Linked DNA regions of Homo sapiens. The protein of the gene in region 2 interacts with the protein of the main gene of each other region in a biochemical or structural test. Each region holds a gene or a part of one and is shown on either strand. Other genes may lie near its edges.

Region 1 (3,749 bases), on a different chromosome or scaffold from region 2:
CACCGCGCGCCCCGCCGTTTAGGATGTTTTTTGTGTCCTTAAAAAGTGCCGGGGATTTCATCGTCAGGTGGAGACAAGGCGACAAAACAGTAGTTTCTTTAGTACCAAAGGCAACGCGATTATTTCAAACCCCACAGCGAGATCCCTCTTGCTGATCAGGCCATGTCTGCCCAGGGCGGACCCTTCGATCTCCCTTATGGAACTCTCGGTAATTTATAATATTTTTGTGTGTGTTTCCATTGTGTTGTGGTGAAAGGCGATAAGGCATTCAAAGAAAACGGACGGGCCTCCGCTGAACCAGTGAGGCCCCAGACGTGCGCATAAATAACCCCTGCGTGCTGCACCACCTGGGGAGAGGGGGAGGACCACGGTAAATACCAGTAAAGGAATCACTGCCTACACGGTGTCACCCAGACACGCACAGACATCAACATTTTTGCCCTAAAGAAAAAAACTGGGGGAGAAGAAAGGGGAGAACTTAAACTAGTGACAGGGCGGTGAGGGAAGGCATGAAGAGGCAAGCCGGCGCGTAACCGTCTGGCCAGCAGCTCCAGGTGTGGGCTCCGCTCGGGCGCTGGCGGAGAGACCCGGGAGCGCAGGGCCTCTCCGTCTCTGGGCTCTTGGCGCCCTCTGGTGGGAATTTCTCTTTCAACGCATTTTTACGGCGAGGGGCTTCTCCCAACGCAGCGGTTCTTTTAACTACGCCTAAATATTGCAAAGGGAGAATCCTTAAAGCGCGTGAAATCGAAGGGGGAGCGGGCCAGGGCAAGGGGGGCTGGTCCGCCCCTTCCGGGCACCTCTGTGCTCGGGTGCCCCATGCGCGTGCAGCGGCGCTCGTGCGTGTCATCAACCTTCAAACGTGATTAATCAGGAGGCCTTCTTTTCCCATCACCAAGGGGGCCAAAGCGAGGAGCGAGCGCATAGCAAAAGGGACGCGGGGTCCTTTTCTCTGCCGGTGGCACTGGGTAGCTGTGGCCAGGTGTGGTACTTTGATGGGGCCCAGGGCTGGATGAGGAAACTGTAATTCCTCCATGGTCTAAGAGGTCTCCCCTCATTTCTGCCTCCTTTGCGGTTACAACAATCCCAGCTCCGTAGAGAGCCAACGAGGACACGACCCAAAGCGCGCTTTCGCTCAAGGAAGCGTCGCAGGGTCACAGATCTGGGGGAACCCCGGGGAAAAGCACTGAGGCAAAACCGCCGCTCGTCTCCTACAATATATGGGAGGGGGAGGGGAAATGGGAGAGGGGAAAGGAGGGGAGGGAAGAAGAAACGCTCAGAAAGGCAGAATTCTTCGTAGGAATTATCTTTTCCCTCCTCTCACCCGACAGCCTGCCTATTTCCAAAGGAAAAAAAAAAAGCGTGTTGAGTACGTTCTGGATTACTCATAAGACCTTTTTTTTTTCCTTCCGGGCGCAAAACCGTGAGCTGGATTTATAATCGCCCTATAAAGCTCCAGAGGCGGTCAGGCACCTGCAGAGGAGCCCCGCCGCTCCGCCGACTAGCTGCCCCCGCGAGCAACGGCCTCGTGATTTCCCCGCCGATCCGGTCCCCGCCTCCCCACTCTGCCCCCGCCTACCCCGGAGCCGTGCAGCCGCCTCTCCGAATCTCTCTCTTCTCCTGGCGCTCGCGTGCGAGAGGGAACTAGCGAGAACGAGGAAGCAGCTGGAGGTGACGCCGGGCAGATTACGCCTGTCAGGGCCGAGCCGAGCGGATCGCTGGGCGCTGTGCAGAGGAAAGGCGGGAGTGCCCGGCTCGCTGTCGCAGAGCCGAGGTGGGTAAGCTAGCGACCACCTGGACTTCCCAGCGCCCAACCGTGGCTTTTCAGCCAGGTCCTCTCCTCCCGCGGCTTCTCAACCAACCCCATCCCAGCGCCGGCCACCCAACCTCCCGAAATGAGTGCTTCCTGCCCGCCCTAGTCCCTGCTCTCCACGGGTGCGCTGCGCAGGGACCCCCCCCCCCCCGCCTCCCTCGTCACTCTTCTTATCCCTGCCCTCCGGATTCACGCCCCGGGGAAGCACGGAGGCTGAGGCTCTAGTTGAAGTGGGGCAAGAGCGATTTTCCCTTGAGCTTCCATGCTGCGAGCGCCTGTCCCTCCAAAGGGCGCCTGGGCAGCAGCAGCCGAAGGCGCTACTAGGAACGGTAACCTGTTACTTTTCCAGGGGCCGTAGTCGACCCGCTGCCCGAGTTGCTGTGCGACTGCGCGCGCGGGGCTAGGAGTGAGGTCGGAGGGAGGGTGTGGAGGCGATGGCCGGTGGGCCCTTCTCTGTGGGGTCCTCGATCTACCCAGATTAGCCCGCAATCTCTCTGTCCCGGGGCCTTCGGGCGCCATCGCGCCAGCGCCGAGAGTCGAGCAGGGGCGCCGCGCAAGATCTTTGTCCGCCGCCTCCTGCGCGCTGCGCGCAAGTTCGTTTCCCCGGTGACGTTCCCCATGCTTACTTACCCCACCCTCTCTGGATCTGTACCGCGAGAAATCTGGGGTCCTCAGGGGGCTAGGTAGAGGAGAAACGCTGAAACCGGACCGAAACCTCGCCCTAGGCTTAGCGATGGCTAAAAACCGGCTGGGATAAGAGGGAGGCAAGCAACATTCCGACTCGCTGCTTTCTGGCTGTCTGGAGTGCAAGGTGACTGTGGTTCTTCTCTGGCCAAGTCCGAGGGAGAACGTAAAGATATGGGCCTTTTTCCCCCTCTCACCTTGTCTCACCAAAGTCCCTAGTCCCCGGAGCAGTTAGCCTCTTTCTTTCCAGGGAATTAGCCAGACACAACAACGGGAACCAGACACCGAACCAGACATGCCCGCCCCGTGCGCCCTCCCCCCGCTGGCCCACACGCCGGCTGCTGAGTGCCCAATGGGGCTTGTAGCGGCTCGGCTGGAAAATCGCTCACTGAGCGCTCCCCTGTGCTCCTAGCCTAGTCCCCCACACCCTTGCGTCTTGTACTGGCCTTGGACCCCCACCCCGACCCCGACCCCGCCTCGTCTCGGCGCTTCACTCCAGGTCGCGCCGATGCACCGCCAGACTCGAGAGCGGCCCAGGGCTACGCTCCCTGCGCCCCAGTACCGGAGCTAGCGCGCACGTCTCCTCCGCTGCCCCCACCCCTGCGCACCCCTACCAGGCAGGCTCGCTGCCTTTCCTCCCTCTTGTCTCTCCAGAGCCGGATCTTCAAGGGGAGCCTCCGTGCCCCCGGCTGCTCAGTCCCTCCGGTGTGCAGGACCCCGGAAGTCCTCCCCGCACAGCTCTCGCTTCTCTTTGCAGCCTGTTTCTGCGCCGGACCAGTCGAGGACTCTGGACAGTAGAGGCCCCGGGACGACCGAGCTGATGGCGTCTTCGACCCCATCTTCGTCCGCAACCTCCTCGAACGCGGGAGCGGACCCCAATACCACTAACCTGCGCCCCACAAGTAGGTCCCGCCCCAATTTTCTATCAAATGAACTGCAGGGAAGATGGGGGCGCTGGGACGTCGGGAGGCTGAGCTGGCGGAAAGGGAAGGGGGAGCGCGGAGATAATGGAGGCTGGGAAATAAATGGGGCTCTGACCCCGTCCCTGCCAGAGGTCATTCGGCTGTCAGGGACGCTAGGTGACTCCCAGGGCACCGGAAAGCGAGGACCACGCAAGGTCCGAGCAGCGGCGATCGTTGAGGGCTTCGCGGAGGAGGAGGGGCGCGCAGCCAGGGTGTTGTTTTTATTCTGTTGTGTGTGGTTTCTTTGCTCCGTGGGACGACAGGGGTCAGCGCAGGGGGCGGAATGAAGAGCT
Region 2 (3,749 bases):
TCGAATGGCACACTCTCTTCTCTCTTCACCGAAAAGCAGAACTTTATCACATTTCTTCCAGAATAGCTGTTTCTAGCCAGGTGGGATTAATTGGATGGAGGCTTGGTTTTATAAGGTGGAAGGGAATAAAACTAGTCACAAGATAGTTGTGGGGGATTTTAAAGATGTAAGTTAGTATCTCTATTAAGCTATTTGACATATGATAAACAAACAGTATTCTTCTGCAGGAAGTAGCAAAACAAAATGACATTTGACAATGTTAGCTTCTCTCATTAACATGGTGTGTTTAGCTTATTAGCCAAGATAAGCTGTAGACCAGGTTTTTACCCTTTACACGTGAAATTTGAGGCATTAAATGAGTAAAAGAATTGGGATTCCTTTTCCATCTTGGTGATCAAAACACTTTTCTCTTGTTTCCTTGGACCAAGTGATGAAGAGGTGGTGAGGGGACAGCAAAAAATGCAATTACATTTCTTCTCTTTATTTTTATTTTTTGAGACAAGAGTTTTGCTCTTGTTGCCCAGGGTGGAGTGCAATTGTGCGATCTCGGCTCACCGCAACCTCCACTTCCCAGGTTCAAGCGATTCTCCTGCCTCAGCCTCCTGAGTAGCTGGGATTACAGGCATGCACCACCACATCTGGCTAATTTTGTATTTTTAGTAGAGACGGGGTTTCTCCATGTTGGTCAGGCTGGTCTTCAACTCTTGACCTCAGATGATCTGCCCGCCTCGGCCTCCCAAAGTGCTAGGATTACAGGTGTGAGCCACCACACACAGCCCCCTCTTCTCTTTCTCTGATCACTCCAATACTCGTTCTAATTGGGAGGAATGGATTTAACTAATCTTTGGTTTTTATCTCTGTGTAGAAACTGATTTCTTGGCAGAATGGACTGTTAATATATTTAAAAAGACTGAAAACCTCTTAGAATCTTAAGTAGTAAAATATTCAGAGCGAAGAAGTAGAGATTTTACCTTTACAATATGGTGACAACAGATAACTGTAAAAACTTCTTTTTCAAATAGAACCAGCAGGAGCATGCATGGAACACATATACCAAACATCTTTCTGATAACATTAAACATTTTTAAAAGATGTTAAATGTTCTTTTCATTGTGGTGCTTCAGATTCCTGATTCTAGAACTTGTGTGTGTGGAACCTGTGTGCTAACTATTCTGTTGGAATTTACCAGCAAAGAATTATCTAAGAATTTTCAAACTAAATGATGGGGGAAGGAACTAACATTTTTGCAGTCCCTGGAAATGTAAAATGTTGTACTCACATGGCCTCACATTAAATTCCCATTAAATTGACATTTAAAAAAATTTTTTTATTTTAAAGGAAACGGAAGGACGATGAGATTAAATAACTTGCCCAAGGATTCTGGGTGGGTGTGCTGTGGAGGTGGGATTTTTATACTCTGCCATGACCCAATGTGCAAAGTCTCCTTGAAATTCAATTCTTGTCCAATATTTACCAGATTAAACTCAGTGAAATTCCTCTCTCTACTACTGTTTATGGTTATTTTCTATGCCAATATTAATCGGTAAGCCTGTCATTTTCGCCCTTGTGGCATCGAGTTTTCTTTGAAGGACAGCTTTTTTGTTTGCTTTTTGTTTTTTGTTTTGCTTTGTTTTGTTTTGAGGCAGGGTCTCACTCTGCCCAGGCCATAGTGCAGTGGCTGATCTCGGCTCACTGCAACCTCTGCCTCCCAGGCTCAAGCCTCCCCAGTAGCTGGGATGATAGGTGTGCACCACCACGCCTGGCTAATTTTTGTAATTTTTGTAGAGACGGGGTTTTGCCATGTTGGCCAGGTTGATCTTGAACTCCTGACCTCAAGTGATCCACCCACCTCGGCCTCCCAAAGTGCTGGGATTACAGGTGTGAGCCACCACACCCGGTCTTTAAAGGACAGCTCCAGAATTAGCTTTTTTCTGAGATGTCATAACAGAGGTCAGTTTTAGTGTTTGGTTAATACATAAACACATAGAACTGAGGTCAGTGCCTTCAGCATTGGTCTGAATTTTGTTGCTGTGCTACAAAATTCTAGTGAATTTCCTAGTTGTGGAGAAATGCAAAGTCAGTCTCGGCCTTTTCAGTAGAGCTTTGGTTTAGTGACTTTTTTAGTTGAAGTGACTTTTCAGCATGGATTGTCTATTGCTGTATTTTTTTAACTGCTTTATTTTAATCTTAGAAGTTCCAACTTCTAACTTTCTATACCAAATGATGTCTTTCAAAATTAGAAGTAACAGAAATGAATGAAATCGGCTGGGCATGGTGGCTCACGCCTGTAATCCCAGCATTTCGGGAGGCCGAAGTGGGCAGATCACCTGAGGTCAGGAGTTCAAGACCAGCCTGGCCAACATGGTGAAACCTCATCTGTGCTAAAAATACTAAAATTAGCTGGGCATGGTGGCAGGCTCCTGTAATCTCAGCTACTCGGGAGGCTGGGCAGGAGAATTGCTTGAACCTGGGAGGCGGAGGTTGCAGTGAGCCGAGATTGTGCTGCTGCTGCACTCCAGCCTAGGTGACAGACTGAGACTGCATTTCAAGAAAAAAAAAAAAAAAAAGAAAGAAAAGAAAAAGAATGAAATCATTAAACTGTATGCTCATTGCTTTCTCTTGGTAAAAAGCTTCTCTGGCAAATAGGAAGATGAAATGTTGAGAGGCAGAGGATACTCAAAATACTGAATTTCTTCCTTATTCCCTCAACACCTGAGTTCTGAACTACCCCAGGTGGCACCATCCTTGTAACCCAGGCGCATAACATTCCTGGGCTGAGAGCTTTGCCCCATTGCCGGCTTCTCAGTGGAGTTCCTTCTATCCCCTCTGTGGTGCCTTCCTGCCTTACTGAATTTTGCTGGACTTGGCCTTTGCTCATAGTACAGCTCCACGAACTCAGCTAGTAGGATTTCCTTATGGGTAAAAGGAGAATGTGAATGGCATACTACCCCATGGTGCTGTTGAGATTACATATTTTATGTAATATATTTATGAGTAGGATTGTGCTTGATACCTAGGAAACAGTTAATAGATGTTGTAGGCAAGGTCTTCACGCATATGGTCTTGGGAAATAATGAGACAATCCTGCTTTTCGAGGGTTCAGGTGGGTCCTATGAGCGTCCCTCTGATACCTCAATATAACCAGTAGAGGTAAATTAGCAAAATGCCAGGGGCGTTTGTTAACTTTGTTTGAAAAACAAACTGGATTGAGACATATTTTCTTACTTATAACTTGATTACGTGTGTTCATTTTCGACCCAGAAACAAATCGCAGCTGGGCATAAAACAAAGAATAGAATGTGGCCTTAACTATGTGTCAGAAAAGCCAGTTTTAGTAACTCAGATTTTAGGTTTGTAACCCAACATGACTTTAAACCTCTGGGGATTGCTGTATAGAATTTCATGCTGTGGGTGTCAGAAAGCAGCACCCCATGTTATACTTACTGGACCCCCTATGTTTGCACTTTATCTTAGTGTCTGTAATTTCTAAGTTGGTGTATGGGTTTCTATTACTGGATTGAGAGAAGATCCTAAAGGCAGACCTGTTAGGTTTCCTGTTTCTTATTTAGCTCAACCTAAGGGACCCAATGTATTTTGAAATATCAGAGCTGAAATTATATTTGGTATAGGCCATTCGTGCATACTGACTAGTTAAGAATTCAATGGAAGAGTTATAAACTATAATTTAAAATATTGATCCGGTTTATTTCTTTATATTTTCATGTACTGCTCTGTGATTGCTTATAGGA

The links.
Region 1: the proteins of BASP1 (region 2) and GAD1 form a complex in vitro, tested with the Homo sapiens proteins (one study listed by BioGRID).

The regions. Positions count from the first base shown.
Region 1 is NC_000002.12:170,815,278-170,819,026, forward strand, and holds the start of GAD1 (glutamate decarboxylase 1), read left to right. Parts: upstream 1-1,609; 5' UTR 1,610-1,771; exon of another isoform or gene 1,772-1,928; intron 1,929-1,976; exon of another isoform or gene 1,977-2,139; intron 2,140-2,440; exon of another isoform or gene 2,441-2,763; intron 2,764-3,108; exon of another isoform or gene 3,109-3,251; 5' UTR 3,252-3,314; coding exon 3,315-3,396; intron 3,397-3,749.
Region 2 is NC_000005.10:17,269,522-17,273,270, forward strand, and holds part of BASP1 (brain acid soluble protein 1), read left to right. Parts: intron 1-3,749.